Linked DNA regions of Homo sapiens: regions 1, 2 and 3 are each linked to region 4. The links come from fine-mapping of genetic effects on gene expression. A gene starts in region 4. Each other region holds a variant in brackets. All regions are shown on one strand. Distances are between the middles of the regions.

Region 1 (7,291 bases), 32 kb after region 4:
GCGTGTTTGACGTCCCCGGCAGGTCCTGAGCTGGAAGGAGGCAGAGATGGGGGAGGTGGGCGGTCTGTTTCAGGGTTATTGTTTGACTCCGGGCCATTGCTGGGGACAGCGCCTGGCACCCTCTACCAGCCTGACTGTGGGTGCAGGCTGCTTCCTGGGCAGCTCCTTTTGAACACAGGCTCTGACTGCGGCCTGGATGTGTCTTCCGCTTCCCTGTCTGGGTTGAGGGGAGGAGTCTGGGGCCTGCTTGAGTTGGGAATGTGTGGGCCCCGTCCTGTCCTGTCATCGAGACCTCACTCATCCAGGACCGGTGCACCTGGCTAAGCCTCACTGGGCAGGCACTGCTGAGCCGCCCTCCACCTGGCTCAGGGCTGGGGCCTCAGGGCACCTGTCCTCCCCTTCGTGGTGCGAGGGCATCCCAGGGTGCGCTTGGGCACCTGCTGGCATTCAGGACCTCAGTTACTGACTCGCTGGCCTCATGCTGTTGTTTCCATCACAGCCGTCTCCCGGGTCACACTCGGCTCTACCCGGGAAGAAGACGGCCCTGCAGGCGGCGCTCCTGGAGACGCTCTTGGACCTGGTGGACAGGAGCTGGGGCGGCTGCAGGTCCCTGCACAGCAACGAGGCATTCCTTGGTGAGTCAGGGCGGCCACTGCTCTTGCCCTGTAGGCAGCGTCTGTGTGGGTTCCGGGGTCCTCTGCGTGTGGTGACCTAGGAGTCATCTCAGCCCCAGGTCTCCTATGTCCCCTCCCACGAGCGTGTGGTGGTCCCGCGCCTGGGCCCTCCCTGGCAGTCTTTGCATCTCACAGTGTCCAGGGCTCTCGGGAGACACCACATGGGCCTGGGCCTGTGGGTCCCCCGCTGTGCTCTGGGGTGTTGGGGGGCCTGTCACCTCATTTTGCTCAAAATGCTGTCCAAAGGGGCTTGGTTCTGATGGCTGTGATCACATGGGGATTTGGAGTTTGGAAGCTGCTCAGCATCTTCTCCCCCGACCCAGACGTGTAGCCTGTGCTGGGCCTGGATTGCAGAGCTTTTGGTTGGTGTGGGACCCAGGAGGGTGGTCCCTCCCCAGAGAGGACTTGGGTCTGTTGGATTCTACCAGGCAACCCGTACATGAGCACACTGGGGCCTCCCTCATCCAGGATCACACTGGGAGACCAGGAGATGCCGCGTCCCCAGGGGCACCTTCTCTTTGTCCTGCATCCTGGGGTGTGGCTGTGTGTGTCCCTCAGGAGCCTAGCCAGTGTGCTTCTCCCCGCAGACCCTGGGCACGGCTCTGAGCTGTCTGACTGCGCCTTGCAGTGTTATAGCCCCTCAGCTCCTAGAATGAGGACGCCCTGCAGTCGCAGCCCACCTGGACCCCAGCCCCATAAACCTCCCCTCTCCCTAGGCTGGTGTCCTGTGGGAGCCTCCTGAGCTTGCCATCGTCGGTGGCGGGGGGACTGTCCCAGGCCCAGGCCACTGTCCCAGTGTGGAGTTGCCAGCTGTCGTCTGCATGGTGGTTTCCACACAGGGCAGTCGGTGCTTGTGGAAGGCGCAGCGAGTTGTGGCGGCGCCACTGAAACCTTGAGACGTGGCGGCCCCTGGTTGCCCCTTTTCTTGGAGGTCACCTCTTCTCTTTCTTCAGTTCCCACCCTGCCCGTGTGTGGACGCACAGAGCCTGAGGTGGTTTTGTGGCGCCAACACCCCTTTCCCCTCTCCCTACCTGTCGTCTTTTTGAGGCATCGTCTGTGTGATTCAAAACATACTGAGCCGATTTTGTTTACATTTCATCCTTTAAGCCTAAGTGCTAATGTAATATTTGGTTTTCACTCCTAGCTCAGGCAAGACACATCTTGTCATCTGTTGAAGAATTCACAGCAGCTCAGGACAGCTCTGCGATGGTGGGTGAAGATGTCGGCTCCCTGGCTCTGGAGAGTAAGTCCCTGCAAAGCCGCCTTGCTGAGCAGCAGCAGCAGCACGCCCGGGAGATGAGCGAGGTGACGGCGGAGCTGCACCACACACACAAGGAGCTGGTGAGCCCGCCCTGGCGCTGTGTCTGTGTCCATGTGACTGGGGGAAACATGGCTCTGACTTCCAGGAACGAGGGCAGCTCCTTGATGCCACACTGTCCCAACTGCCATCTCTGCAGCCCCATGTCTCCACTCCCTGCCCGGGACCCGGCCACCCCCGGAACGCGGCCTGCCCTGTCTCACAACAGGCCTGGAGCACTTTGGAGACAGCAGTGGCGCTGGCCACCTTCTCTCCCCGGGCCCAAGGGACCCTCCACCACTGGGCAGTGCCGGGTGCTGCAGGAGCCAGGCCTGGACGTGACTTTGTCTTGCTGACCCATCTCTCAGGGCCTCGAACTGGGGAAAACCGAGGCCACTCTCCTTTTATGAAGGAGATGACGGCCAGTGTCCCATGGTGAGCTGGGGCTACAGGGCAAGTTACCCCAAAACCAGCAGCTGAAAACCTGCATTTATCACCTTGGATTTCTGTGTATTGGGCCTCAGGCTCAGCTCAGCCAGGCTCCCTCCTTCCGTCTCAGCCGTGGGCCGGGGCCGCCGTCTCATCTGAGGCCTCATGGGGGCTCTGTCTCAGCCGTGGGCTGGGGCCACCGTCTCATCTGAGGCCTCACGGGACAGGATCCTCCCAGGCTCCCTCCACGCTGCAAGGGCCTCCCCACGGGCTGCTGGCATCCTTAGCACAGGGAGCTGGTGGTCAGAGAGCCACACCCAGGCAGAAGCCGCCCTCCGGGAGTCCTGGTGTGAGGGCAGAGCCACGTGAGGATGTGCACATCCAGAGGGGCCTTGTCAGCATCTTTAAATTGCGAGTGAAGTCGGCCCGGGACGGCTTCGAAAACTGCCTCTGAACTTGTCTGACAAGTACATACTGTCCGTTTCATGGGAACCAACATCTCAGAGATCCCACACAACGCTTCCTCTTTAGAGAAGAAAAACACAGCAAAACAACACAGGCAGCCTCTGTTTAAACGCACGTGGCCCCCCCACCCCGCCTGGAAGCCTCTGCACGTGGCCTTCATCTGGAAGCCTCTGTATTTAAACACATGTGGGCCTCCTCCATCTGGAAGCCTCTGTATTTAAACACACGTGGGTCCCCATCCCCCGTCCAGAAGTCTCTGCATTTAAACACACATGGCCCCCCATCCCCCATCCAGAAGCCTGTGCATTTAAGCACACGTGGTCCCCCGTCTAGAAGCCTGTGCATTTAAGCACACGTGGTCCCCGGTCCAGAAGCCTCTGCATTTAAGCACACGTGGTCCCCCGTCCAGAAGCCTGTGCATTTAAACACACGTGGTCCCCCGTCCAGAAGCCTGTGCATTTAAACACACGTGGTCCCCCGTCCAGAAGCCTCTGCATTTGAACACACGTGGTCCCCCGTCTAGAAGCCTGTGCATTTAAGCACACGTGGTCCCCCGTCTAGAAGCCTGTGCATTTAAACACACGTGGTCCCCCGTCTAGAAGCCTCTGCATTTAAGCACACGTGGTCCCCCGTCCAGAAGCCTGTGCATTTAAACACACGTGGTCCCCCGTCCAGAAGCCTCTGCATTTGAACACACGTGGTCCCCCGTCTAGAAGCCTCTGCATTTAAACACACGTGGTCCCCCATCTAGAAGCCTCTGCATTTAAGCACACGTGGTCCCCCGTCCAGAAGCCTCTGCTTTTAAACCAACGTGGCCCCTCCTCTGGAAGCCTCTGTATTTAAACACAC[A/G]TGGCCCCTCATCTGGTGGAAGCCTCTGGATTTAAGCACACATGGCCCCTTCTCTGGAAGCCTCTATATTTAAACACGTGTGGCCCCCCGTCTGGAAGCCTTTATACTGAAACACACGTGACCGGCTGTCTGGAAAGTGAGCTGGGCGCCGTCACTGATGATGTCTTTTCTGTGGGACACAGTCAGGCACACCCCTTGCCCTTCTGAGCCTGGGACGAGACAGAGCTGACAGGCGGAGCCCAAAGGTGTGCCGAGCACCAGTGCTGCCAGGGGTGAGAGTCACATGCAGCTGTGGCTGCCGTGGACGCCTGCTTTTTTGCCCTCTGCAGTTTGCCTAACCCCTGCAGTTTGCAGGCAGCCCTGGGCCTCTGGACAGAGCAGCCCTGGTTCCCTGTCAGGGTGAGTGATCCAGAAGAATCTGGCAGCCCGAGCCCCGCGGGTAAGGAGCAGTCAGCACCGTCAGGAACCCCGCGGAGGGAGCAGCCGTGCAGGCTGGTGGGCACTGCTTTCCAGGGAGGCCCACATCTGTCACTCCAGAAGCACCCAAGTTTACTCTGCCACGTGAGGACGCTCATCCCTCGGTCACATGAACCTAGACCTTGCTTCCTTTGGAAGCTGCAGTCGGGTGTCCTGAGGCAAGGTGGCCCCACTTCCAGCTGCTGTGCCTGGCACGGCCTCTGAGGCAGATGGGCTGCGCCCAGCTTGGGTGCAGTCGGTCCTCTGTTCCCTGCACCTGTCGTGGCCTAGACTCCAAAAAATAAAAAATTAGGTGTGGTGGCACACTCCTGTCATCCCAGCTATTTTGGGAGGTAGAGGCAGGAGGCTCAGGAGTTGGGGGCTGCAGTGAGCTGTGATTGCTCCACTGCCCTCTAGTTTGTGCGACAGAGGGAGACTTTGCCTCAAAGAAACAAATGAAAAAGAGCTGGGAGCTCACAGCCCTGCCTTAAGAGCTCACCGCATCCTTGGGAGGCAAAACCATGAGACGTGGCACTGCCAGGAGCTTTCTGGACGACCCAAAGCCCCGCGCGGAGGGCAGGTCATGCTGGTTGGCGCCACTGCAGCAGACACCTTGGGGAGAAGTCCGCGAAATGAAGAACGGGCCAAGATAAGCCTGAGGGGAATGGTCTCAGACCCAGCGATCAGCTTTCACCATGGGCGTCGGGGGCCTGGCGGGTGCATGCATGCTGAGGGGGCTGTCGGCGGGTGGGCTCACTGAGCGGAGAAGGATGAAGCGGCGATACCCCCAGCACGAGGCTTCTGCTGCACAGACTCAGGCGCTCCCTCCCCTGGTGGCAGTGAGCTGGGGCCTGCTCAGCACCCCCGGCCCCAGGATGTGCCTGCTGGTGCCTGAGAGAGCAGCAGCCAGGTGAGACGGGATCCCTGGGGACCCTGGCCGCAGGTGCTGGCGGCTTGGATGGCTCACACCTCACCAGACACCCTGGGGCCAGGGAGGGGCAGAGGCTGCCGTGTAGCTGCAGGCGTGGCCCTTTCCCCTCCTCGATGACAGCTCGTCCTGTGCTCCAGGTCTTCTCCATACTTTGAGGATATGAAAGGAGCCAGAACAGAAGGGGGTTCCTGCAGGGCCACCGGTGCCTCACACTGGCACCAAGGCCTGGGGCTCGCAGTGTCCGTGAGGGCGTCCTGGAAGAGACAGGGTTCCCCCAACCGCCACCAGCTGCCCTGCCCAGCATCAGGCCTGCAGGTCCTGCTGGAGCACATGCCTCAGGGAGACTCAGGAGTGGGGCTCTCACAGGACTGGGGCGCTCCTTTCCATCCCTCTCCTCACTTCCCCCCTCCCCTGAGGGTGCTGCAGGGCTGGGCAGGGCGGGCTGGGAGCAGGGAGATGTACCGTGAAACTGAATTACTGCCTTTCACATCGTGACTCCCAAGTATGCAGAAGGAACCCTCTGGGGATTCTCAGGTTTCAGTTTTACTTTCTATACGCATTTTACTGAATTTGACTTGTGCACTTAAGTGTATTTTCTGTGTCCGCAGGATGATTTGAGACAACATTTAGATAAATCTTTGGAAGAGAACAGTAGGTTAAAATCGCTTTTGTTGAGTATGAAAAAGGAAGTGAAGAGTGCAGACACTGCAGCCACGTTAAATTTGCAGATCGCTGGTAAGTTGATCGTGTATTTGGTCACTTTGTAAACTTTAGGTGTTCAAATGTGCCTAGGTAGACTTTGTTTTAAATTCTTCACTGAGGGAAGTGAGCAGCAGCAGACGCAGTTGGTAAGTGGGGAGCCGAGCCCCTGCCTCACTGGCTGGGGTGGAGGCTGCCTCGGCCGGAGTTTATGGCACACACGTGTGTCTGGGGCAGTCCTGGCATGGATGTAGGAGGCAAGGCCACCCCTGTCCTCACCCTGCCCGACCGTCCTCCCCTCAGCACAGGGTGTCAGGGCTGCAGCTGCTGGAGGGGCCTGGTCACTGTGGGGTTTGCTGCTCCTGTCTGGCGTCCTCCCATGGTTATGCTGCCATCGAATTTGGTGAATGAGCCTGTTGCCCAGCGTCTCAGCGTTACAGATTCAGGTTGCATTTCTGGTGAACCCGTGTCTCTCCCGAGCAGGCCTGCTGTGGTCAAGATGCAGATCTTTCTCATTTCCCTCTCTTCACTTTTTTTGTTCTGTTTTGCTATTTTTACAAAAGTGTATTCAGTATTTCAAGTTCAGATACCTGGATTTTAAATAAGGAAATGCTGATGGAGTCTGCTGTCCACGGTAACCTTCTCGGTGTGGCGTGGAGTCTCTTGGAAGTTTTAACTCATACTTCCCTGAGATTGACAAGTCGAGCATCTCTTCCTGGTCTAGCCTCTCAGGGGCTCATGGACTTTTCCTCAAAGGCCAGGTAGTAACCGTTTCAGGGCGTGTGGGTCTCACGATGTCTGTCCCAACCAGCGGTGGCCTTTGCGGCAGGGAGGCAGCTGTGGATGAGGCCTGTGGCCGCTCTGTCTCCTTTGGGGCAGCGTCTCCTTGGATCTTTCGCCCGTTGGTTTTTATTGGGTTGTTTTATCGAGCGGTAAGAGTTCCTTAGAGTCTTCTTTTTTATTTATAAATTTTGCTTTTCTATCTTCTGTTTCTTTAAGATACTGTTATATTTACAACGGGTCCTTGAATAACCGTGTCCATTCAACATCATTTCGTCGTAAAGGTGATGAGAAAAAAAAAAAAAAACAGTTCCCTGCCCGGGAGAACTGTGTGTGTGGTTTGCTCTCCCGGCTCTGTGGGCTTTCTCTGGGTGCGCTGTTTTCCCCCATGCCCCAAAGCTGTGCACGCCAGGGTGTTGCTGTGTCTGACCTGTCCCATCTCGAGTGAGTGCAGGCACCAGCCGCCCTGCTGTGCGATGGCATCTGATCAGCACTGGTACCCGCTCCACGCCCTGAGCTGCTGGGATAGGCTGCAGCCACCTCTGCCCCTGAACTGGAACAACAGAGTAAATAATAGTCTAACTTGTCTTTGTTACTCGGTCTTAAATGTATGCATAGCTCCCATTTATTTTAGTGTTTAATGTTAGAGGTGTCTTGGTCTTTGGTGGTTTGGTGATGTTCTTGTGACTAGAAATTGCTGTGTGAGCGTCA
Region 2 (7,291 bases), 41 kb before region 4:
CCCCCGCAGAGGGGCGCGGCTGAGGGGACGGCGCCGACACAGGCCCCCGCAGGGGGGTTCAGCTGAGGGGACGGCGCCGACACAGGCCCCCGCAGAGGGGCGCAGCCGCATTTCCATGTGGCCCCAGCAGCCCCGGGCTGGGTTGGAGGACTCGAGACTCTTGTGTGCCTGCCCCGTACAAGAAGAACAACAACAGAGGGCGCCCCGTGTGCAGGGCTTGGCTCCCAGAGTGCCAGGTCCGCTTGCCTGCAGCATGCCCGGTGAAGCAGGTGCTGCTCCTGCACTATTTTACAGGTGAGGGGACAGCCCTGGGCCACCTCTGTGACCCGAGTCACCGAGGTGCAGTGTGTGACTGGAGGGTCCTCTCTGTCCCTGATAACAAGACACTGAGCTCTTACTCTAGCAGAGCTGGGCCAGGAGCCCTTAGGCAACAAGGCGACCCCTCCCAGGATGAGGCTTTATTTCACATACTTTAAAGATTACCCAATAGCTTATAATTCGCTGACTAAAAGCATACAAGTTTGCTAAGACAATAACTAAATATCACCCACGTAGTCTCCAGGGGAGGAGGAATCGCTGAAAAATACCATCAATAAAAGTTAAAAACTGAAAGGATAGGTCTAACAGTGAAATAGTTTCCAGTTTTCAACACTTCTCTTTAAGAAAGCATACTGTAAAAATGAGAGAAAAAAAGATCTTGACTAGAAGGCATTTGCCAGTCATAGAACTTACAAAAAATTGTATCCAGAAAAACAAAACTCTGTAAATCAATATGAAAAAGACAAGCAACCCATATTTTTTGTTTGAAGAAGGATATAAGGTTGTTTGCCCATTCCTGAGCCAATGTAATGCTGTCTTAATAAATGGTTGATAATAAATCCTGGCATCTGCTGTGGTCTTCACCACACTCATCCTGGCCATTATTGATCGTTTATACCTCCTTGTAAAATTCAGGACAGCCTGTTCATTTCTATTTTTAAAAATCCTATTGGGATTCTGATTGGAATTGTATTACATTTATAAATAATTTTTGGAACTTATCTTCAAAGAAACAACAAAGGTTTCACAGCTGACTTTCAGTGAAACCATGGGAGCCAAAAGAAGATTGAATGGCATCTCAGCAGTGGTGAAAGGAGAGAAAGCTGCCAGCCCCGAGTCTGTGCTCACAGAAGCACCCCAGACAGGAAGAAGAAGTAAAGCCAGCCCGCAGTCCTGTGCTCACAGAAGCACCCCAGACACGAAGGAAAAGTGAAGGCATTTTTGGAGAAACCAAGGCAGATCTGCACCACAAGACATAACCAGGGCATTCTTAGGCTGAAGGAAACAGCCCCGGGTGAAACCACAGAGAAGAGCCTGCCGAGGGGCGGGAGAGTGGGTGACGTCACGCGATAAAGCAGCGCCTCAGTCCATGGGGACATGAGACAGGCGTCCCCATCATCGTCACAGCCAGTGGCACAAAACAGGGAGGGAGAGAGACTAGAGACAATGGGGAAAATAGAACGGGCCTGGAGATCCCAATGGGAAGTGAAGGGTCTTCGGGGTCACAATCGTATTCTCTCTGGTTTTGGTGTCTAACGGAAAACCCCATAATAAACTGCCAAACTCACTTAATGAGCCACCACTTCAGACTCATCATATTGGAAAACATTTTAAAATCTAAGAATGAACACCCAGGCCATGCAGAGAATGCCCAGAACAAGAGAGAGAGAGAGAGAGCAGTGGACAGAAGACTCAAGCAGGCAAGTCCCAGGAACATCTGTAAAGATGAGAATGAACACCCAGGCCATGCAGAGAATGCCCAGAACAAGAGAGAGAGAGAGCAGTGGACGGAAGACTCAAGCTGGCAAGTCACAGGAGCATCCGTAAAGACAAGAATGGGTTCATTAGTGATGGGAAGATGCAAACTAAAACGTAAAACCCACGAGACACCATAGAATACCCACAATTCAGACCTGCTGGCACCAAGAGCAGTGTGCAGCGTGGTGTGGAGGCTCCCACACTGAGGACGGGAATCGGTGATGCCCCTTGAGCTGGGCAGGATCTACTCAGGTCCAAGGCTCACACGTCCAGCGACCCCAGCTGCTAGTGACCCTCGCACACACAACAGGCCATAAACAGGAACCCATGGCCCCCACGGCCGCTAGCAGGAGGCAGGACATGGCTCCATGGCTCAGGGAAGCCAGGAGACAGCACCAGTGCCTGCCCAGCCCACCTGCCCTCCAGCTGCCGCCCGTGTGGGCCTGCACCCCTGCAACACTCGCCTGTGGCTGAGGGGCTGCCTCTCTGAGGGGCCTGGGAGCGAGGTTGCTGCAGCTATCTTCCGCCAGCAGCCAGGAGGCCTCTGCAGCCCTGCTGGACCCCTGGAGAGTACATCCCGGAGAGAGCGTGGCTGCAGGCAGAGCCCTACGCTCCCCTCCCGCGGTTGCTGTTGTCTGAACAGCCACGCCCGTAGCAATGGTTCAGGGGTTCCTGGGGCCTTTTCCCCCTGGGTCTTCCGCCTGTCTTTCGGGGTCGAGAGAGCTGTACTCGGGCAAGCCCCACCATCCTGCACTCACAGCAGAGCCCTGGGGCCTCCTATCTGCACCCAGCCCTGAAGCTGTTGTCTCTGGCTGCAGCCCTCCTGGAAGCCACAGCCTTTCCCCCTTTCCCTATCCCGAAGCTCTTTCACCACTTCCAGGCCACCCTCCCTTCCTCTTTCCTAAACCCTGGGTCATCGCGACACTGCCCCCGCATCCCCGTGACAGGGCATCCCCTCCTCTCTCTAGGGTTTCAGTTCCTGGCTCAAAGCAGCTCTCCACATCGACCCGTGCCTCGATTACTGGCAACTTCAAAATGTGCACAGAGCCCCCCTTGAACTTGGCTTCTCAGATCTCTGAGCCCCTCCAGGGGTCCTGTCCTCCACCTGCCCGGCCCCTTGCCCCACATTCACAGCCCAGACACATCGCGGCAGCTCCCGCACCCCCCTCACCCCGGGGGGGCCTTCTGCCCCCTCAGCACCGTGAGCTGGCCCTACCGCCCCTGGCCCTCCTGGTGCCTCCTGCGCCTGCTGCTCTCCCGTTTCTCCTCTCCATCATGTCAGCAGCCCTTTTGCAAACAGACCCTTGGTCTGTTGGGGCCTCTCAGGCATGGCACAGGCTCACCTGTGGGTGTCTTTGCAATGGCAAAGCACCCACCTCCATTTCCATACCCGCCCCTCCCACTGACCCGCATTCCCAGTCGACCCACCGCTGCCTGAGGGTCAGCGGTCCTAACATTTAGAAAGGGCCACGTGGTGCCCAGTGTCCAGGTGGGGCTGGAGCCAGGTCCTCAGCCCCCAGACCCCTTCCTCCTCCCACCCTGGCCCCAGGCTGACCAGTCCTGAGTGCAGACACCGGTGCCACAGGGACATCCCAGCTGGGCGAATTCTTTTTGTAAAGAGGAGGTCCTCAGAATCAGCTCTAACTGTCATGCCCTCTTTGTTTATCTTCATCGTAGTCGCAGCCCTTGCTGGGTGGTCAGTTCTTTGTTAAGGTTGATACTGAGCCCCAAATCTGATTTGCCCCAAGAGATGAATGATTTTCTCTGCAGTTACTGGGCGGCTTTCTTAGGACTAGAGAATGGTGAGTGGTTGACATTAATCTCCGCAAACTCAAAATAAAAATGGAAACAAATGTACCAAGAGCTGCAAGGCAACGGCTGACCCACCCCCCACATGGGATCACAACCTCTGGTGGCCATCTGTGCACACCCAGGTGGGGCCAGGCCCCGGGGCCCTCTCTGATGGCAGCCGACGGGCTCCCTCGGGCCTGCGCAGTGCAGCCTGGACGGCGTGGGCTTAGGTGGCCATTTCACCACAAAGTCCCTTCAAAGGCTCAACAGGTTTTGAGGCATAGCCTCCCTCCTCCAGACCCCGCTGGCCGGCCGTGTGGAATGAGAGCTGAGGGTGTCTGGTCTCTCAGGGGCATCGGGGAGGGAGGCCCAGCGATGGCCTCGGTGATCCATTTGCCGCAAGAGGACCAGCGCTTACTCGAAGAAGATTTAAAACACACAAGGAACCGTGAAACCAAACCAGAAAAGCCCTGCTGACCGAGCCGCCCCTTCTAGAGGCCGAACAGGCATGGAAACCCTGAGCCGACACAGGCACTTACCCAGCAGAGAGGACAGGGCCACCAGGATCCACATGGCCACAAAGAAGGGGGTGTGCACGGGTAGCCAC[C/T]GCAGGCTGACCACTGGAAACCCGCTGCTGTTCCGGGCAACGGGGGGCTCTGGCCCTGGGCCCCGGCCAACGAGTGTGCAGGGATGGGCTGTGCCCACCAGCAAGGCCAGCAACGTGAAGGCACAGAGTCCAGACCCCTGGGGCTGCATGCTGGGGGCACGTGCCGCCGACAAGGCGCTGTGTATCCGCCGGGCTCTTCTCGACTTCGTGGACCTGGTATCTGCAGGGAGCCACCTCGTTGGTCCCCGGTGAGCCCTAGAGCTGTGCCAGTTCTTCCTGCCTCACCCCAGCACCTTCCCTCTGCTGACCACAGCCCAGCCTTGTCCTGGGCAGCCTGTGGCCTCCAGGCCGTCAGCAGATAAGCATTCCGTGTGGCTAGAGGGCCTTCCTGGGAGCTGGACCTCCCCAGCGGGAGTTCAAAGCCCTTGCCCATTTTCCTGGTCTGGGAACAGAAGCGGCCCGCCCATCCCCTCTATGAGATTAGGTTCTACCTATCATGTAAAATAAAAGCTGATGAAGAAACAGGGTTTAATTGGTTTCTTATCAGGTGTTTCGTCCTTGTTTGGAATTCTGTGTGGATGGGGGAGCCATGGGATTACACCCAATAAGGTCACCTGCAGATCAGCAGTGCGGCCCCCGTGGGGTCCGCACCCAGGCGTGTGCTCACCTGCAGATCAGCAGTGTGGCCCCCGTGGGGTCTGCTCCCGGGCATGTGCTCACCTGCAGATCAGCAGTGCGGCCCCCGTGGGGTCTGCTCCCGGGTGTGTGCTCATCTGCAGATCAGCAGTGCGGCCCCCGTGGGGTCTGCACCCAGGCGTGTGCTCACCTGCAGATTAGCAGTGCGGCCCCCGTGGGGTCTGCACCCAGGCGTGTGCTCTGCACCCAGGCGTGTGCTCACCTGCAGATTAGCAGTGCGGCCCCCGTGGGGTCTGCACCCAGGCGTGTGCTCCACAAAGCCCCCTCTGGCTTCAAGGCAGCACTGGGTCCTTTGCCCCGGACCCTCCTGCTGTTCCCACGTCTCCTCTGGCTCCTGAGCCTCACCTCCACTGGCTCCTGAGAGGCTCTTCCTCCCGCACACCTGTGCCCAGGTGGCCTTGCCCACTGCAGGTGCAAAGCCCCTACCTTAGCATCGGAGACCCCAAGGCTGGTGGGGGTGGGGTGTCCTGCATAGTCAGCCCCAGCCTGGGGCAGGAGGCCGGGGCCTGGTGTGGCCTTGCGGGGAATCAGAGCCCTTGCCGGCAAGGGCTGTCCACACAGCAGGGGAGCCGAGCCCAGGCCAGAAGGGAAGGGCATCTCCAGCAGGGGATGGTCACCTAAGGGGATGGTCACCTAAGGGGATTGATCCACGATGCAAATGTGTCAGAGGCCTTGGGAGCTGGTCTTACTGTCAGAGTTTCAGATTTTGAAAAGAGAAAACTGTCACAAACTCTGACTTGGATTCGGTTTGGAGGCATCTGTGTGAATTTAGGATTTGCAAAACGAATAGGAGTGTATAGAAATAAATACGGCCTGCCTCCACGTCTTCAGGTTCCGCACCACAGATTCAACCGAGGATCAAAGATACTTGGAAAAGAATAAAAAATAACAATATAGAAAAAATACAAATAAAAATAACAACACAGTGTAACAACTATTTACATAGCATTTCCATTGTATTCGGTACAATGAATAATCCAGGGATGATTTAAAGTACCGGGAGGATGTGTGCAGGTTACTTGCAAATCCGACATCATTTTACATCAGGAACTTGAGCTCCTGCAGGTGGGTTAAACTCGGGGGTCCTGGAACCCATCCCTTGAGGACTGCAAAAGACAAACATATGGGTGTCAATGACAGTCCCAAATCATAGACCCTGGAATAAAGCTGGAACCCACAAGCCCATCCTTACATGATAAAGATGCGGAAGACTTTAGGGGTCTTTTGCAGCCTCTCAAGGTGCCTCGTGACTGTGCTGGAGTAGACCAGTAACTGTACTGTGAAAATGCTTGACAGCAGCAGCTGACTCCACGCGGACCTGGAGCCGCGGCTGCGGGCAAGGGCACCTGCACACAGGGGTGTGCAGCACGGGAGAGGCTGAGCTGTGCCTCGGATGCTCCTGCCACAGGCTCATAGCTTGGTCCTGTCTCGAAGAAACTCCTGACACACCCCAGAATGAATGAGGGTCTTCACCCAATAAGTGCCCCGCAACCATCTCGGGAGAAAAAGAGGCCAAGCCGCAGAGGACCATGCTTGGTTTCAATTGGACAGCTGGATTCGCTCCGAGGGCTCTGAGGTCAGCAGGTGGCCACCAGTCAAGCCGATGTCCTGACCTGGGAGTACGCAGGACAAGGAGGCACCGAGTCAGCAACAGACCCCTAGATGGTCAGAGAGATATTCCCGTGCTACTCTTGACACCTTTCTGTAAAAGAAAAAATTCAAATAATACATTACTTAAATAAATTAAAAGTTTATATTAAAAAATACACACAACTTCTGCTTCCAGCTACAATATAGAAAGTCTCAAGAGCCTATTTTCACCAACAACCTAAACAAGCCACATAAGCTATAAATTCACAATAAAAAAAAAAACCCGCCAGAAAGCTGAGGATACATAGACACCCGATTGAATTAAGCCACCAGAAGTGAGGAGCCCCCAGGGGAAGGGTGTGGCTGATCACTGGCCCGGAGACAATGGGGTCTGAAAACGAAAAGGCGGCTTCTGCAAGCTGACGAAACCAGACACCACCAATAAACAAAACCCAAATCCACAAACCCAGAATTTTATACAGAACAAAAACGTCCTTCAAACATGAAGGGTAAATACAGATATTGTCAGACGATAAAAAGCATTTGTTGCCAGCAGAATTCGAGTGTGGAAATCATAAAGGAAAATGTTCAGCTGAAGGAGAACGACCTTGGGCTGGGAACAGGGAAGGGCCGAGTCCTTATGCGGCAAATTCAGCACTGGCAATTACTGACTTGCTGAAGCGAGCTTGTCCTCCTCTTGACCTGTGGGCCACATGTGGCCCAGGATGGCTTTGAATGCGGCCCAAGACACATTTGTAAACTTTCCTTAAAACATAATGAGATTTTTTTTGTGATTTTTTTTTTCTTTTA
Region 3 (7,291 bases), 42 kb after region 4:
TGGACTGTGAGGTGTGACTGTGAGGTGTGACTGTGAGGTGTGGACTGTGAGGCGTGACTGTGAGGCGTGAATGTGAGGCGTGACTGTGAGGCGTGACTGTGAGGCATGACTGTGAGGTGTGGACTGTGAGGTGTGGACTGTGAGGTGTGACTGTGAGGTGTGACTGTGAGGCGTGGACTGTGAGGTGTGACTGTGAGGTGTGACTGTGAGGTGTGGACTGTGAGGTGTGACTGTGAGGTGTGACTGTGAGGTGTGACTGTGAGGCGTGGACTGTGAGGGGTGACTGTGAGGTGTGACTGTGAGGTGTGACTGTGAGGTGTGACCACGAGGCATGGACTGTGAGATGGGACTGTGAGGTATGTGACCATGGGGTGTGGGCTGTGAGGTATCAACCCTGAGTGTGAGGTGTGACTGTGAGGTGTGACTGTGAGGTGTGGACTGTGAGGTGTGACTGTGAGGTGTGACTGTGAGGTGTGGACTGTGAGGTGTGAATGTGAGGCGTGACTGTGAGGCGTGACTGTGAGGCGTGACTGTGAGGTGTGGACTGTGAGGTGTGACTGTGAGGTGTGACTGTGAGGTGTGGACTGTGAGGTGTGACTGTGAGGTGTGACTGTGAGGTGTGGACTGTGAGGTGTGACTGTGAGGTGTGACTGTGAGGCATGGACTGTGAGGCGTGACTGAGGCGTGACTGTGAGGCGTGACTGTGAGGCGTGGACTGTGAGGCGTGGACTGTGAGGTGTGACTGTGAGGTGTGACTGTGAGGTGTGCCTGTGAGGCGTGGACTGTGAGGCGTGGACTGTGAGGGGTGACTGTGAGGTGTGGACTGTGAGGTGTGACTGTGAGGTGTGACTGTGAGGTGTGGACTGTGAGGTGTGACTGTGAGGTGTGACTGTGAGGTGTGGACTGTGAGGTGTGACTGTGAGGTGTGACTGTGAGGCGTGGACTGTGAGGCGTGACTGAGGCGTGACTGTGAGGCGTGGACTGTGAGGCGTGGACTGTGAGGTGTGACTGTGAGGTGTGACTGTGAGGTGTGCCTGTGAGGCGTGGACTGTGAGGCGTGGACTGTGAGGCGTGGACTGTGAGGGGTGACCGTGAGGCGTGGACTGTGAGGCGTGGACTGTGAGGTGTGACTGTGAGGCGTGGACTGTGAGGTGTGACTGAGGTGTGACTGTGAGGTGTGACTGTGAGGTGTGGACTGTGAGGCGTGACTGTGAGGCGTGACTGTGAGGCGTGACTGAGGTGTGGACTGTGAGGTGGGACTGTGAGGTGTGACTGAGGTGTGACTGTGAGGTGTGGACTGTGAGGCGTGACTGTGAGGCGTGACTGTGAGGCGTGGACTGTGAGGTGTGACTGTGAGGCGTGGACTGTGAGGCGTGGACTGTGAGGTGTGACTGTGAGGTGTGACTGTGAGGCGTGGACTGTGAGGTGTGACTGTGAGGTGTGACTGTGAGGCGTGACTGTGAGGTGTGGACTGTGAGGTGTGACTGTGAGGCGTGGACTGTGAGGTGTGACTGTGAGGCGTGGACTGTGAGGTGTGACTGAGGTGTGACTGAGGTGTGACTGTGAGGCGTGGACTGTGAGGTGTGACTGTGAGGCGTGGACTGTGAGGCGTGGACTGTGAGGTGTGACTGTGAGGCGTGGACTGTGAGGTGTGACTGTGAGGTGTGACTGTGAGGTGTGACTGTGAGGCGTGGACTGTGAGGTGTGACTGTGAGGCGTGGACTGTGAGGTGTGACTGTGAGGCGTGGACTGTGAGGTGTGACTGTGAGGTGTGACTGTGGGTGTGAGGTGTGACTGTGAGGCGTGGACTGAGGTGTGACTGTGAGGCGTGGACTGTGAGGTGTGACTGTGAGGTGTGGACTGTGAGGTGTGACTGTGAGGTGTGACTGTGAGGCGTGGACTGTGAGGTGTGACTGTGAGGCGTGGACTGTGAGGTGTGACTGTGAGGTGTGACTGTGGGTGTGAGGTGTGACTGTGAGGCGTGGACTGAGGTGTGACTGTGAGGCGTGGACTGTGAGGTGTGACTGTGAGGCGTGGACTGTGAGGTGTGACTGTGAGGTGTGACTGTGAGGCGTGGACTGTGAGGCGTGGACTGTGAGGCGTGGACTGTGAGGGGTGACTGTGAGGCGTGGACTGTGAGGTGTGACTGTGAGGTGTGACTGTGAGGCGTGGACTGTGAGGTGTGACTGTGAGGTGTGACTGTGAGGCGTGGACTGTGAGGCGTGGACTGTGAGGCGTGGACTGTGAGGCGTGGACTGTGAGGCGTGGACTGTGAGGTGTGGACTGTGAGGTGTGACTGTGAGGTGTGACTGTGAGGCGTGGACTGTGAGGCGTGGACTGTGAGGCGTGGACTGTGAGGTGTGACTGTGAGGCGTGGACTGTGAGGTGTGACTGTGAGGCGTGGACTGTGAGGTGTGACTGTGAGGTGTGGACTGTGAGGTGTGACTGTGAGGCGTGGACTGTGAGGCGTGGACTGTGAGGTGTGACTGTGAGGCGTGGACTGTGAGGTGTGACTGAGGCGTGGACTGTGAGGTGTGACTGTGAGGTGTTACTGTGAGGCGTGGACTGTGAGGTGTGACTGTGAGGCGTGGACTGTGAGGTGTGACTGAGGCGTGGACTGTGAGGTGTGACTGTGAGGCGTGGACTGTGAGGTGTGACTGTGAGGTGTGACTGTGAGGTGTGACTGTGAGGCGTGGACTGTGAGGTGTGACTGTGAGGTGTGACTGAGGCATGGACTGTGAGTTGTGAATGTGAGGTGTGGACTGAGAGTTGTGGACTGTGAGATATGACCTGTGTGCAGTGTGACCAGGGGAGAGAGGTGCATGAGAGATGGTCGGGCACGGCGGGGCAACCTGGTTCCCCTGGGCGGTAGTCCGGCAGCTGTGCTTCCCCCTTCACTGCAGTGCGTGTTCAGTTGGAAACACGGAGATTTCACCTTTACTCCCTGGCTATAGGGGGATGGTGAGAAGGGGGCTGGGTGTGAGGGGATCTTCAAGGCAGAATCTTAGTTTGTCTTTTAAGAATTGTGTGCCGGGACGTGGTTGGAGGCTGGGTGCAGAAAGGAAGAGGCGAGCTGCTGGAGGAGGCAAGGACAGGTCGCTCTGGGCAGTTTTGTGGGTGCTGCTGTGTGAACCCCTGTTGCTGTGGCCTCAGCAGGGAAGGCTGGTCTGTGGTCAGTTCCTCCCCCTCCCCTCCCCCTTTCATTCCCTCTTCCTTTCCCCCGACCTCCCATTCCCGCTCCCTCCCCCACTCCTCAGGCTGAGGCTGCCACACTTACCTGGGTTCGAC[C/T]ACAGTCTGGTCATAGGCGTAGCCAGGCTCTGCCCCTTACAGGATAAAGGCCACAGACCCCCATGGGGCCCATCACAGGTGTAAGTTACAGAGGGGAAGGGTCCTGAAAGATGAGACTGGGCCAAGAGGAGATGCAGCGGAGCAGAAGGAAGGGGACTGTGGCGGCCGCGGGTGCAGTGCCCAGTCGTGGGCAGGGCCATGTGACTCCCTGGAACCTGGTGGGCCTGTCTGTGGCAGGTCAAGGTACAGTTGGGGGTCATTCTCCTTGAGCACTGTGGCCTGGATGTGGACAAGGCAGGGTGCACAGCTCCCAAACATGGTGGCATTGGGCTTCTGCCCCCAGGATTCATGCTGGCTTCATCCAGTCCTGGCCTGCGGCTCCTTTGCTGTCCAAGTGAACAGGGCCTGGGCCTGCACAGTGGCCCTGTCAGTGGGGTGCCCATCTCTGTGGCTAATGTGACCGAGGTCAGTGGGCCCTGCCTTGTCTAATACTTGTAATGCCCTGAGTGTCCTCAGGTCATCGCTGACTGGGTGATTAGGGCAATTTGGAGGTGACAAAGTGGGTAAAATGTAATAGCACTTTACTTCTAAAATAAAAATGGTCAACAGCATTAAAGACTAGGACTCTTCTATTGCACTATTATGATGTCAAAATTATTATATTTGACTGGGAATTAGAACTATTTCAGTCCCCGTATATTTTCTAGAATTAGAACATTGTTTTGCTAGCCATGAAGTTTATCATCTTCTCATAAAACCATGCGTAGCTGGAATAGCCAAGGCGCCATTCAGTCACTCATTAGCCTGTTCAGCTCATTCATTCATTCCATAGGTGCTGAGCCGCACCTCCAAGGCTGCTCCCAGGGGTCAGGACAGTGGTTGGGAAGGAGGAGGCAGGTGGGCGGTAGCCAGTGGGACACAGAAGGTGATGGGGCCACAGAGATAGGTCTGTGTGCAGGGCCAGGGCACCTTCGTGCCCATGCAGGGAGGTGGGCAGGCCCAGCAGGTGAGGGCCACACCGCTGGAGAGGACGGAAGTGCCAAGCAGCCGCTTCCCTGTTGTTCTGCAGCTCCCTGGTCAGCACCAATGAACACCTGCTGCAGGAGCTGAGCCAGGTGCGGGCGCAGCACAGAGCCGAGGTGGAGCAGATGCACTGGAGCTACCAGGAGCTCAAGAAGACCATGGCCCTGTTTCCACACAGCAGCGCCAGCCATGGAGGCTGCCAGGCCTGCTGACTCCTGCCGAGAAGCTGGGCCACCCCTTAAGCTTCCTGGTAAAGTTACATTGTCTGCACCTTTGTACTTCTTTATTGAGTGTACTGGCTGGCAAGAGTTCTCTCTTCTGTTGGTAATTATTTAGGATTTTTGGAATGTATTCAGGACCTGTAGCTTGGTTTTCTAAAGCACCTCGTAAAATGATATGATTACTCCAAGCCCTCTGCATGTTTTCAGACAGAACACATTGACATATTTTGAGACAAACTGACTATTAATCTTGTATCCAGTATCCTGAGATGAAGTAAATGCAGTGTTCTACTGCCTGATGTGAAAGAGAGCTATGTATGATAATTAAAGAAAATAATTTTCTGTGTAACAAGCAATCTTTATTTAATAAACAAATACATTGTTCTGAAAAGTTAACTTTTTCAGTGGCTGTATACAAATTATAACTGAGTTTGTCATTGAGTTTTTTATAGAACAAGCTGTGCACCATGATAGGTGAGTGGGAATAATTAAGTTCAAAGACTTAACACAAGTGACACTTATAGATGTGGGGGAAAAAACCTTAAAAATATTGTCTTATGATATTAACATATCACAGCGGAAACATCTACCCAAGCCCTGGCTCGCTCTCTTGTTTGCAGTGTAGTTCTGAAAATTATGTCATAATAGGACACAAAACTAGATTTTTAGTTTGGAAACTTCATATCTTATGTCATACTTGCTGTGATTGGTAAGACAAGGTCATTTTTTAAATGACGTTCAACTGATTTGGGAAGAATGAGCAGGCCTAAGAAGAAAATGCTCTGTGCTAGCTCTGTGTGTGTGTGTGCCCTTGCTGTGTGTGTGTGTGCCCTTGCTGTGTGTGTGTGCTGTGTGTGCGCTAGTGTGCGCTTGCTGTGTGTGTGTGCTAGCTGTGTGTGTGTGCTGTGTGTGCGCCTAGTGTGTGTGTGCTAGCTGTGTGTGTGCTAGCTGTGTGTGTGTGCTGTGTGTGCTAGCTGTGTGCGCTTGCTGTGTGTGCTCTGTGCGCGTGCACTTGCTCTGTGTACTAGCTGTGTGTGCATGCTAGCTGTGTGTGCGCTTGCTGTGTGTGTGCTAGCTGTGTGTGCATGCTTGCTGTGTGTGTGTGCTTGTGCGCTTGCTGTGTGTGTGTGCAGTTGCTGTGTGCTAGCTGTGTGTACGCTTGTGTGTGCGCTGTGTGTGCGCGCACGCACCCTGTGTGTGTGCTGTGTGTGCACGCGTTGTGTATGTGCACTTGCTATGTGTGTGCTTGTGTGCTAGCTGTGTGTGTCTGCTAGCTGTGTGTGTGTGTGCTTCTGTGTGTGTGTGTGTGTGCGTGTGGATTGTATCCCTGGGGAAATCAGAGGTGGGACTCTGCTGTCTCTTCCCCGAAGAGGACTTGCTAGGCTTCAGGCTGCCCTCTTGTGTCACCTCTCTGTCCAGTTGTGGTCCTAACAGGAAAATGTGTCATACCAAATTTATTTTCTGTAGGGTTGGGATGGGGTTAATTTGTCATCACGTAATTTATGTATGTAAGAGTATTAGAAGATGTTAATATTAATCCACTTTAAGCTTATAGATGCTTACCTCGTTTGGGTTTCATTGAGCTTCTTGGACCTGTGAGTTCATATTTTTCACCAGATTTGGCAAAGTTGCAGCCACTACTCATATTTCTTGTCTGACCCCGTCTCTCACTTCTTCCTCCCTGTCCCCATCTGGGACTCTAGTTAGCTTTCTGTTAGACTGTGATACTGTCTCTCAGGTCACTAAACGTGATGCTTTTTCATCCTTGTTCTCTCATCCTTTCCTTTAGGTGGTTTTATTGTCCTGTTGCGAGGCTTACTAATCTTTTCTTCCACTTGCCTAATTTGATGTTAAGCTTGTATAGTGAATTTTTTATATCAGAAATTAGGTATATTTTTGTTCTAAAATTCCATTTGAGGCTAGGCGGGGTGGCTCACACCGTAATCCCAGCACTTTGGGAGGCTGAGGCAGGAGGATCACTTGAGGCCAGGAGTTTGAGACCAGCCTGGCCAACATGGCGAAACTCCATCTCTGCTAAAAATGAAAATTAGCTGGGCATGGTGGTGGGCACCTGTAGTCCCAGCTTCTTGGGGGGCTGAGGCAGGAGAATCGTTTGAACCTGGGAGGCGGAGGTTGCAGTGAGCCAAGATTGCAGCACTGCACTCCAGCCTAGACGACAGAGCAAGACTCCGTCTCAAAAAAAAAACAAAAAAACTCCATTTGATTTTTTTCATTAGTTTTATATCCCATTATGTTCACGTTTCCATTAACTGCTTAACCATGTTTTTAACAGGTTTACTAGAAATTCCCAACTGTTCCAAAGTGGTGGTACCCGCAGGCCCGACTGCTAGTTGTGTATGACCACGTCTGCCGGTCCATGTTTTCAGCACCCATTGCCTGAAGTGTTAGCACCTTCACTCCGGTGGGTGTGGGGTAGTGGAGGGAGTGGGGTGGTGGAGGGCGCGGGGTGGCGGAGGGCGCGGGGTGGTGGAACGTGTGGGGTAGACCTCTTTCTGGTTTCATTGGCTTCTCCTTGTTCAGCACCTTCTCATGTGTCTGCGGCTCATTGGGATTTCCTGTTTGTAAAGTACCTATTCAAGTATTTTCCCTACTTTTCTATTGGATGGTCTGTCTCATTTATTTGCAGGTGTTATTTATGATTCTGGGTAGTAGTGCTTTGTGAATTACATTTGCAAATAGCTTTTCTTGTCTTTTTACTTCAATGGTGTCTTTTAAGAGAAATTTTAAACTTTAATATG
Region 4 (7,291 bases):
CCGGCCCACAGCCATGGGGATGCCCCTTCCCACACCAGCTCCTGCAACTGGAAGGCTGTGGGCCACTCACTCTGAAGCCTCCCCTTTCCAGACACAAGGGCAGGAGTCAAGGGCAGTGGCAACATCCCCCAGAGATGCCGATGGACGGTGTTTCAACCTAAATCGGACAGCCGCACTCCCTCCCTGGCCACACAGCAGGACAGAGACCAGGACACAGCGGCCCACCCGCTGCCCTCACACTCCCCTCCTCCACGGTGTGAACTAAACCGCACACGTGGCCTGTTACTCGGACAAGGTGGGAAGGTGTGGCCCCACCCCCTCCTAAGACATTACGATGCGGAGAACCCCCAAGCCCACCCTCAACTGTGTTCACTGGAAACAGCCCAGCAAGGGCTACGTGTGCCTTCCGGTTTCACATTTGGGAAGTGGGTAAAATGCAGTATTGACAGTTCTCAAATATTGGTGTTGATCTTAACTGCTAGAGATACCGTGAGGGAAAAGAGCGCTTTTGTTCAACGTTTATGAATGGATAAAGGAGGAACTGAAACCAGCAAAGGGGCGGCTGGCCCTGGACCAGACGCGGCTTCGCCGAGGAGCTGTGGGCAGGGTGGGCCGGCACCTCCTTTCCTCTCGAGAAGGATGTGGAGAGCAGGTGGCTCGTGCCACCTGCCTCCCTGGCCCTCGTCCATGCCTCTGCACTGACCGCTGGGCTCCTGCCGCCCGGGGATGTGGGGAAAGGCCTTGGAGTGGGATGGAGGTCCGCGTGTGGGTGTGTGGCAGGTACCGGTGGATTGAGGTCCATGTGTGGGTGTGAACCTGGGTGTGAGACTGTGTGTGGGTGGGTGTGTACGTGAGTGTGCATGTGCACGTACACCTGTGTATGTATGCGTGTGAGGTGTGTGAACTGTGAGTGTGCTGTGGCTGTGAGCGTGTGCACACGTGAACTGAGCGTGACAGTGCGAATGTGTGTGCCGCGAATTCCACTGGCCACATGAATGCAGGCGAGGCCGCTCCGCTAGGCTGTGGATTTCCAGCATGGCCACGCTGGTTGCCTGTGTTGTCTTGTTGACACAGGATGGAGAAAGAACGATGCAGGATGCATCTCTGAGCCTGGCTCAGGCACCCAGAGGGAGCTGGGTTTGGGAGCAGCTGCTCTGCGTAGCCCTGGCTTGGATGCTGCGAGCCAGGTGGGCCTGGGGTGAGCGCTCGTCCCTGGGGTGGGTGGAGGCCCCCATTTCCCTCTCAAGTCCCCTCACTGTACATCACAGCCTCCTCCCACCCCCGCTCTGTTTAGAGAAAGCCCAGAGGCCCCTCAGGCTGAACCTCCAGCCCTCTTCTCTGACCATGTGGGTCTCCCTGTTTCCTTCCGCTGGCCTGGTCTCTGTAGGGCTCACTGAGCCTGCAGTCTGGGACCCACAGGCTTGAGGATTGAGGCTCGGGGCCTGGGAGCCTCCCTGGGATGTTCTAGAAAGCTATGGATGGGGCACCTGTCAGGGAGACAGCACACGGAGAGCCTCTCCCACCTGGGTCCTACCATAGCGGCCTGGGCCTGTGGGCTTAAAGAGCCGCTCCGGAATTTAACTGGGCCTGAGGGCTGGTGCCCTGTGAGGAACCCGGGATAGAACCTGGGGACAGAGGCCTCCATTAGTCCTTGGGAGCGGCAGGTAGCCCATGGGGTCACTGTGATCCCGGCACATTGTGGGAGCGTGCGCTGGGATGGGGAGGGGTCACTGTGAGCACGGTGCGTCGTGGGAGCGTGCGCTGGGATGGGGAGGGGTCATCGTGATGATGGCACAGCACACTCTCCTGTGGTCTAGGTTTAGGGATGCCAGTGAGACCCGCTGAAGCGTTGGGGCCCTACCCGAGGTGAGGCGTGCCCAGGTCTGGGGACTCCTGTCTTGGGGCCCCTCCCAGGAGAACCACCCCCCTCCTCTGGCAGGAAGCCCCCAAAGCTGTGGAGGAGCCCTGGGCCCACAGACAGCATCCCTGCTGCTGGGGACCCCAGGCCTGTGCGGGTGCCGCTGCCATGGGGCTGATGGGGCCCAGCCCAGCAGCCCCTGCCTTTGCTTTCCCGGCTTCTCTGCGGCTCTGTGCTTTTGCTGCCCCATTCCAGGCCGGAAGGCTCCCGCGCCTCCATGGATCTTCATGATTTGGCCAACCAGAGTGAGCACCGTGAGGAAGTGGAGACAGACACAACTTTCAGCAGCAGAAGACAGGATAATAAAGTTGGGTTTGGTTTATGATCTAACGTGACCATTAAAAGTGTTTAATAAACAACGTTAAAGACTACTTAGTGGCAGATGCATCCGGCAATGCTTAGCATAGCCTCATGACTGTCAATACGCACAGGCTTGAAAAACACCTGCAGGATACATGTGGGCATGTTAGTGTGGGTTATCTCAGCAGGGCGGCATATCGAATCTCGGTGCCCTTCTGTAGTGTCTATATTTTCTACAGTGAAGCTGGGATACTTTGGTGAGCAGAGGCATTGTTTTCAAAGTTCCCATTGGTACTTCCATCACATCCCCGTGTGGTTCTGTCCTGGACCGGCTGCCCACTGAGGTCCCACTCGCCCCTACCCTGCCCTGTCTGGCCAGCTGGGTACCTGCCCAGGAGGAAGAGGCTCAGTGTTTGGGGCCTGTGTTATGCCCTGAAAAGCCACTGCTGTTGGGTGAGGGCCCATGAGGCCTTCAGTTTGCCATCGTCATGTGCTTCTGAAGAGCCAGGATGCTGTCCACTGTTTGTCTCCTGGCGGGACAGAATTCCACTCAGTGCATATCAGGGGCAGTGATGGGGCTGGGGGTGTGAGGGCTCAGCTGTGCCCTGAACTCCTTCACAGTCTTGCAGGAGGGGTCATGGAGCCATATCTGGGTTTGCAATTTTTGGAAAGTTACGTGACGATCTGCACTCAGGAATGCTGAGTGTTCGGCAGGCCCCATGAACAGTGATCAAATGTGACGCTGTGTGTCCCACAGCCTAAGGGCTGTGGCAGAGACCAGGAGGGCCATCAGCTCCCACAGCTTTCGAGTCCACCTCAGGGCTCCTCCTTGCTGACCTCCCTGGGTTGTCAGTGGAGACAGCCACCCTCCCACAGAGCACCTGCCTGAAATGGGCCAGGCCGCCCCTGTGCCCTGGCTCTTGCTGCACATGCTGAGGTCAGCACGGAGGCGCCCTCGGGCACCAGCATGCCCTCGGGTTTGCAGCTTGTCAAATATCCCATGAAGGCAACCTGACCAAATGTGCTCTAACACCACTGGACCAATGGAACGTCTTGGGCTGAACAGATGCAGCCTTGCATCCACCGCCTGCCACCACCCTCTGTGTACACCCCCTGCACACACCTCTGCACACACCCCCCCTGCACACTGTTGCACATACCCCCTGCACACAGCCTGTGTACACTCCCTGCACAGATCCCCTGCACACAACTCCCTCACACATCCTCTGCACAAACCCTGTGTATACCCCCTGCACACACCTCTACACATACCTTCACACACCATGTATACCTCCTGCACACACCTCTGCACACACCTCCTGCACACACCTTGTGTACACTCCCTGCACACTGTTGCACACACCCCCTGCACATAGCCTCTGCACACAGCCTGTGTACACTCCCTGCACAGATCCCCTGCACACACCTCCCACACACATCCTCTGCACAAACCCTGTGTATACCTCCTGCACACACATCTACACACACCTCCTGCACACACCTTGTGTACACCCCCTGCACACTGTTGCACACACCTCCTGCACACACCTCCTGCACACACTGTTGCACACACCCCCACACATAGCCCCTACACACACCTCTGCACATACTGTTGCACACACCCCCACACATAGCTCCTGCACACACCTCCTGCACACACCTCCTGCACACACTGTTGCACACACCCCCACACATAGACCCTGCACACACCTCCTGCACACACTGTTGCACACACCCCTTGCACATACACCCTGTATATACCCCCTGCATACTCCTTATGTACAGCACTGCACATACTCCCTGCAGAGACCCTGTGTGCATCCTCTGCACACACCCCTTCTGTATACTGTCTGCACACACCCCCTACATGTACACCCTCTGCACACTCCTCCTGCATACACCCCATGTACACCTTCTGCACACACTCCCTGAACACATTCTGAGTACACCTCCTGCACACCCCGTGTACAACCTCTGCACACACCCCCTACACACTCCCCTACACACTCCCCTACACCATCCACACACACTCCCTGCACACAGCCCCTGCACACATTCCCCATGTACACCCTCTGTCTGTGTATACCCTCGTCTACTACCACCATACGTACCCCCCACCACTACCCTGCCTTGTCTATCACCCCCCAGGCTGTGACATACCAGGGATGTTGCCAACGAGCTGGTCTAATCTGGGGTGAGGGTTTCTGGGTGCCCCTAGACACCAGGAGAAAGGCGGGGAGGGGACACCCCTGGGGGTCTGGATTCACTCCACCAGGCGCTGGGCCACAGTGGTACGGTGACACAGTAGATGTCTTGAGCAGGATTAAAGTCTTCCCAATAAACAGGCTGAACTCTGTCTTCCTTGAAAGCTCTGTAGAAGGACCTCACAAGGATAAACACAGCGAGACCCTCCAGGGCGCGGTCAGCCACGAGCCACAGTGCTGGGCCTGTGACATCTCTGGAGGTTCTGGGGTGGAGAAGGACCGGCCGTGGGGAGTGACTGGCTGGGGAGAAGCTCAGCTCCCGCCCACCTCTGGGAGGCCCGGGGCTGGACGGGAGGTGCAGCAGACAAGGCTCCGGGCGGGTGCTGGGGTGTCTGGAGGGGTCCCCGCGGGGGGGTCGGGTTGGGTGGGGAGTCTAGGTGAGTCGGGGGTCCCCGGGGGCGCTGGGTTCAGGGTGGGAGCGGAGTGTGGATGGGGCAGGGTCCCCATGCCCACCACCAGCCGCGATTCCACCGCGCCTACTCGGGGTTTCCCCGGGAGGACACCGCGTGTGTCAAGGGCCGGGGCCTAGAAGGCGGCCGCGCCCAGGGAAGCCTTGACAGGGAGCTATCTGGGGCGGGGGCTGGGGTCGCGTGGCCAGTACCTGGGAGAACCGCCATTCAGGAGAACCCCCCGCCAGGCTCTTGGTTCCGCCCACGCAGTCCCGCCCCCTCCCCCAGCCACGCCCCTCGCCCCGCCGCGCAGGCCCCGCCCCGTCCCGCCAGGCTCTCGGTTCTGCCGACGCAGGTCCCGCCCCTCTCGTAGCCTCGCCCCGCCCGCCGCGCAGGCGCCGTCCGAGGGCTCCGTTTGAAACATGGCGCGGGCTGGCCCTCGGCTGGTGCTGAGCGAGGAGGCGGTTCGGGCGAAGAGCGGCTTAGGGCCTCACCGCGACCTGGGTGCGCCGGAGGGCGGGCGGGGGTGCAAGCGTGAGGTGGCGGGGGGGTGGGTGCCGAGCTTCCCGGGGCGGCGGCGGACCGTGGGCAGGCGGGACCCGTCTACGCAGGCGCCGCGGGCGTCCGGAACGGTCGCGGGCGAGCGGGGCGCGCGTGTCCAGGTGAGCGACCCACCCCCCGTGCCCAGGTGCGGCCCCTGCCCGCGTTCGGGTCCCGGCGTCCCGGCCCCTGCCTGTCTATCGGGTCACTGGTTCCGTGACTGGGGGTTACATCCGCTGAGAAGAGGGAGCCGGCCTTGCTGTCCAGGAGCGCAGCCCGCCCTCCCGCTGGGGATCACCTCCCTGGTTCTCCTGGGCCCACTCTGTGGTGATTGTTGCGCTCGGCCTTCTTGAGGATGTTGGTGGCCGGTTTCCTTCTTTTTGGCTTATTTTTGTCTGGTTTTGGCGTCAAGGTGAAGCCGAGCTCATAAACTGCTGAGAAGTGTTGCCTTCTCTTATATTTAGAAGAGGTTCTGTAGAGTGTGTGCTCATTGTTTGAATGTTTCCTGGAATTTTCCAGTGAAACCATATGGACATGTCAATTTCTGTTTTTGAAGCTTTTAAATGACAAATTCTGTATCTCTGGTTGTTAGAGAACCGTTCATATTAGTTCACCGCGAGTCTTGGCTGTGTGGGGTTTTGTGGCATTGGCTTATTTGAGCTAACTTGTGGAGTGTGTGTGTTGAGTTGTTTCTGGTGTTCTGTTGTTAGCCTGTTAATGTCTGTGTGTGGTCTGCAGGTGTTACTGGACCAACAGGTTCAGTCAGGTGCTGTGGGGGCCACAGGCCAATACACTGAGACAGTGGGGTTTGCAGCAGAGAAAGAGTTTAAGGCTGGCAGGGGCCCAGCAGGGAGGTGGAAGGAGGCCTCAATCCATCTCCCCAAGGAGATCTGAGCGGTTTTTTTTTTTTAGACGGAGTCTCACTCTGTCGTCCAGGTTGGAGTGCAGTGGCACAATCTCAGCTCACTGCAACCTCCACCTCCCAGGTTCAAGTGATTCACTCAGCCTCCTGAGTAGCTGGGATTACAAGCACGCGCCACCATGCCCGGCTAATTTTTTATATTTTTAGTAGAGACGGGGTTTCACCATGTTGGCCAGGCTGGTCTTGAACTCCTGATCTCAGGTGATCCACCTGCCTTGGCCTCCCAAAGTGCTGGGATTACAGGCATGAGCCACCTACACCCAGCCTGAGCTGGGGGTTTTAGAGGAACAGGACTGTGAGGAGCTGGAAGATTGGTGTTGTCAGTTGGTGGAGGTAAGGGCCATGGAATTATCAGGGTGTGGAAACTGCATTCTTTGGTGAATCCGCTTGCGGGGCCCTTTAGACCAGCTGGCATCAGTCCCCAGGTCCTGAAAGAATATCTCAAATGGAAAACTTAACGGTTTATAATGTCCAGGTTATTATCTGTAGAGTGGTTAAGGGGAACTGTAACCTCGTGACAAAATCCAAGTGATCCTGAGGCAGTAGGCACCACAGGGCTCTGAGGAAGCAGGTGAGAGGGCAGCTGACCTCGGGACATGCCGAGTCCTCCCTTCTTCCCTGATTAGTGCTACAAGGTTTACAGGGATATCCCTTTTCTGTTCCTGATGTTGATAATCTGTGTATTCTTTCTTTTTTAGTCTTGCTAGAGGCTTGTGAATGTTATTGATAGTTTCAAAGAACCGACTTTGGGTTTGATTTTTCTCCAGTGTTTTTCTAGTTTCAAATTTCATTGATTTCTGCTTTTTTTTATTTCCTTCTTTCTGCTTGCTTTGCATTTATTTTATACTTTTCTAAATCCTTGAGGCAAAACTGTAGATTATTGATTTGAGACTTTCCTATTTTCTATTATAAACAGTGCCACAAGTTTCCCTGTAAGCACTGCTTTAGCTGTATCCAC

Which allele goes with the higher level. Positions count from the first base shown, and alleles are read on the strand shown. Sizes are in standard deviations (SD) of each study's normalised expression. Not every link is listed here.
In carriers of allele G in region 1, the expression in iPS cells of the gene that starts at base 5,272 in region 4 tends to be lower than with A alone (large effect, 0.77 SD a copy in HipSci).
In carriers of allele C in region 3, the expression in naive CD8 T cells of the gene that starts at base 5,272 in region 4 tends to be higher than with T alone (large effect, 0.77 SD a copy in Schmiedel 2018).

What was found. PIP is the estimated chance that this variant, and not a neighbour inherited with it, causes the effect. A credible set is the group of variants that fine-mapping cannot tell apart.
Region 1: its variant is the best candidate, but not a certain one, in a credible set for the expression of CEP72 in iPS cells (HipSci, PIP 0.52).
Region 2: its variant is the best candidate, but not a certain one, in a credible set for the expression of CEP72 in whole blood (INTERVAL, PIP 0.70).
Region 3: its variant is the best candidate, but not a certain one, in a credible set for the expression of CEP72 in naive CD8 T cells (Schmiedel 2018, PIP 0.90).

Annotation. Positions count from the first base shown.
Region 1 is chr5:638,590-645,880 of GRCh38, forward strand. It overlaps CEP72 (centrosomal protein 72), which reads left to right. Exons shown (of 12, transcript NM_018140.4): 8 at 500-635; 9 at 1,819-2,015; 10 at 5,710-5,836. Among named protein-coding and RNA genes, the nearest start is that of CEP72, 30 kb to the left of the region's middle. RefSeq lists enhancers at 4,239-4,408, 4,468-4,968, 4,969-5,469, 5,012-5,071, 5,092-5,141 and 2 more and a cis regulatory region at 6,780. The variant A/G (reference allele first, on the strand shown) is at 3,715.
Region 2 is chr5:565,745-573,035 of GRCh38, forward strand. LOC105374607 (a long non-coding RNA gene) reads right to left here. Exons shown (of 3, transcript XR_925671.1): 2 at 6,084-6,593; 3 at 5,300-5,997. Among named protein-coding and RNA genes, the nearest start is that of MIR4456, 34 kb to the left of the region's middle. RefSeq lists enhancers at 4,490-5,079, 5,080-5,667. The variant C/T (reference allele first, on the strand shown) is at 4,196.
Region 3 is chr5:648,631-655,921 of GRCh38, forward strand. It overlaps CEP72 (centrosomal protein 72), which reads left to right. Exons shown (of 12, transcript NM_018140.4): 12 at 4,358-4,923. The coding sequence ends at 4,523. Among named protein-coding and RNA genes, the nearest start is that of CEP72, 40 kb to the left of the region's middle. The variant C/T (reference allele first, on the strand shown) is at 3,289.
Region 4 is chr5:607,069-614,359 of GRCh38, forward strand. It overlaps CEP72 (centrosomal protein 72), which reads left to right and starts at 5,272. Exons shown (of 12, transcript NM_018140.4): 1 at 5,272-5,375. The coding sequence starts at 5,294. CEP72-DT (CEP72 divergent transcript) reads right to left here and starts at 5,142. Exons shown (of 3, transcript NR_103444.1): 1 at 5,084-5,142; 2 at 4,379-4,685. LOC105374608 (a long non-coding RNA gene) reads left to right here. Exons shown (of 8, transcript XR_007058672.1): 8 at 1-542. RefSeq lists enhancers at 4,195-5,125, 5,126-6,055.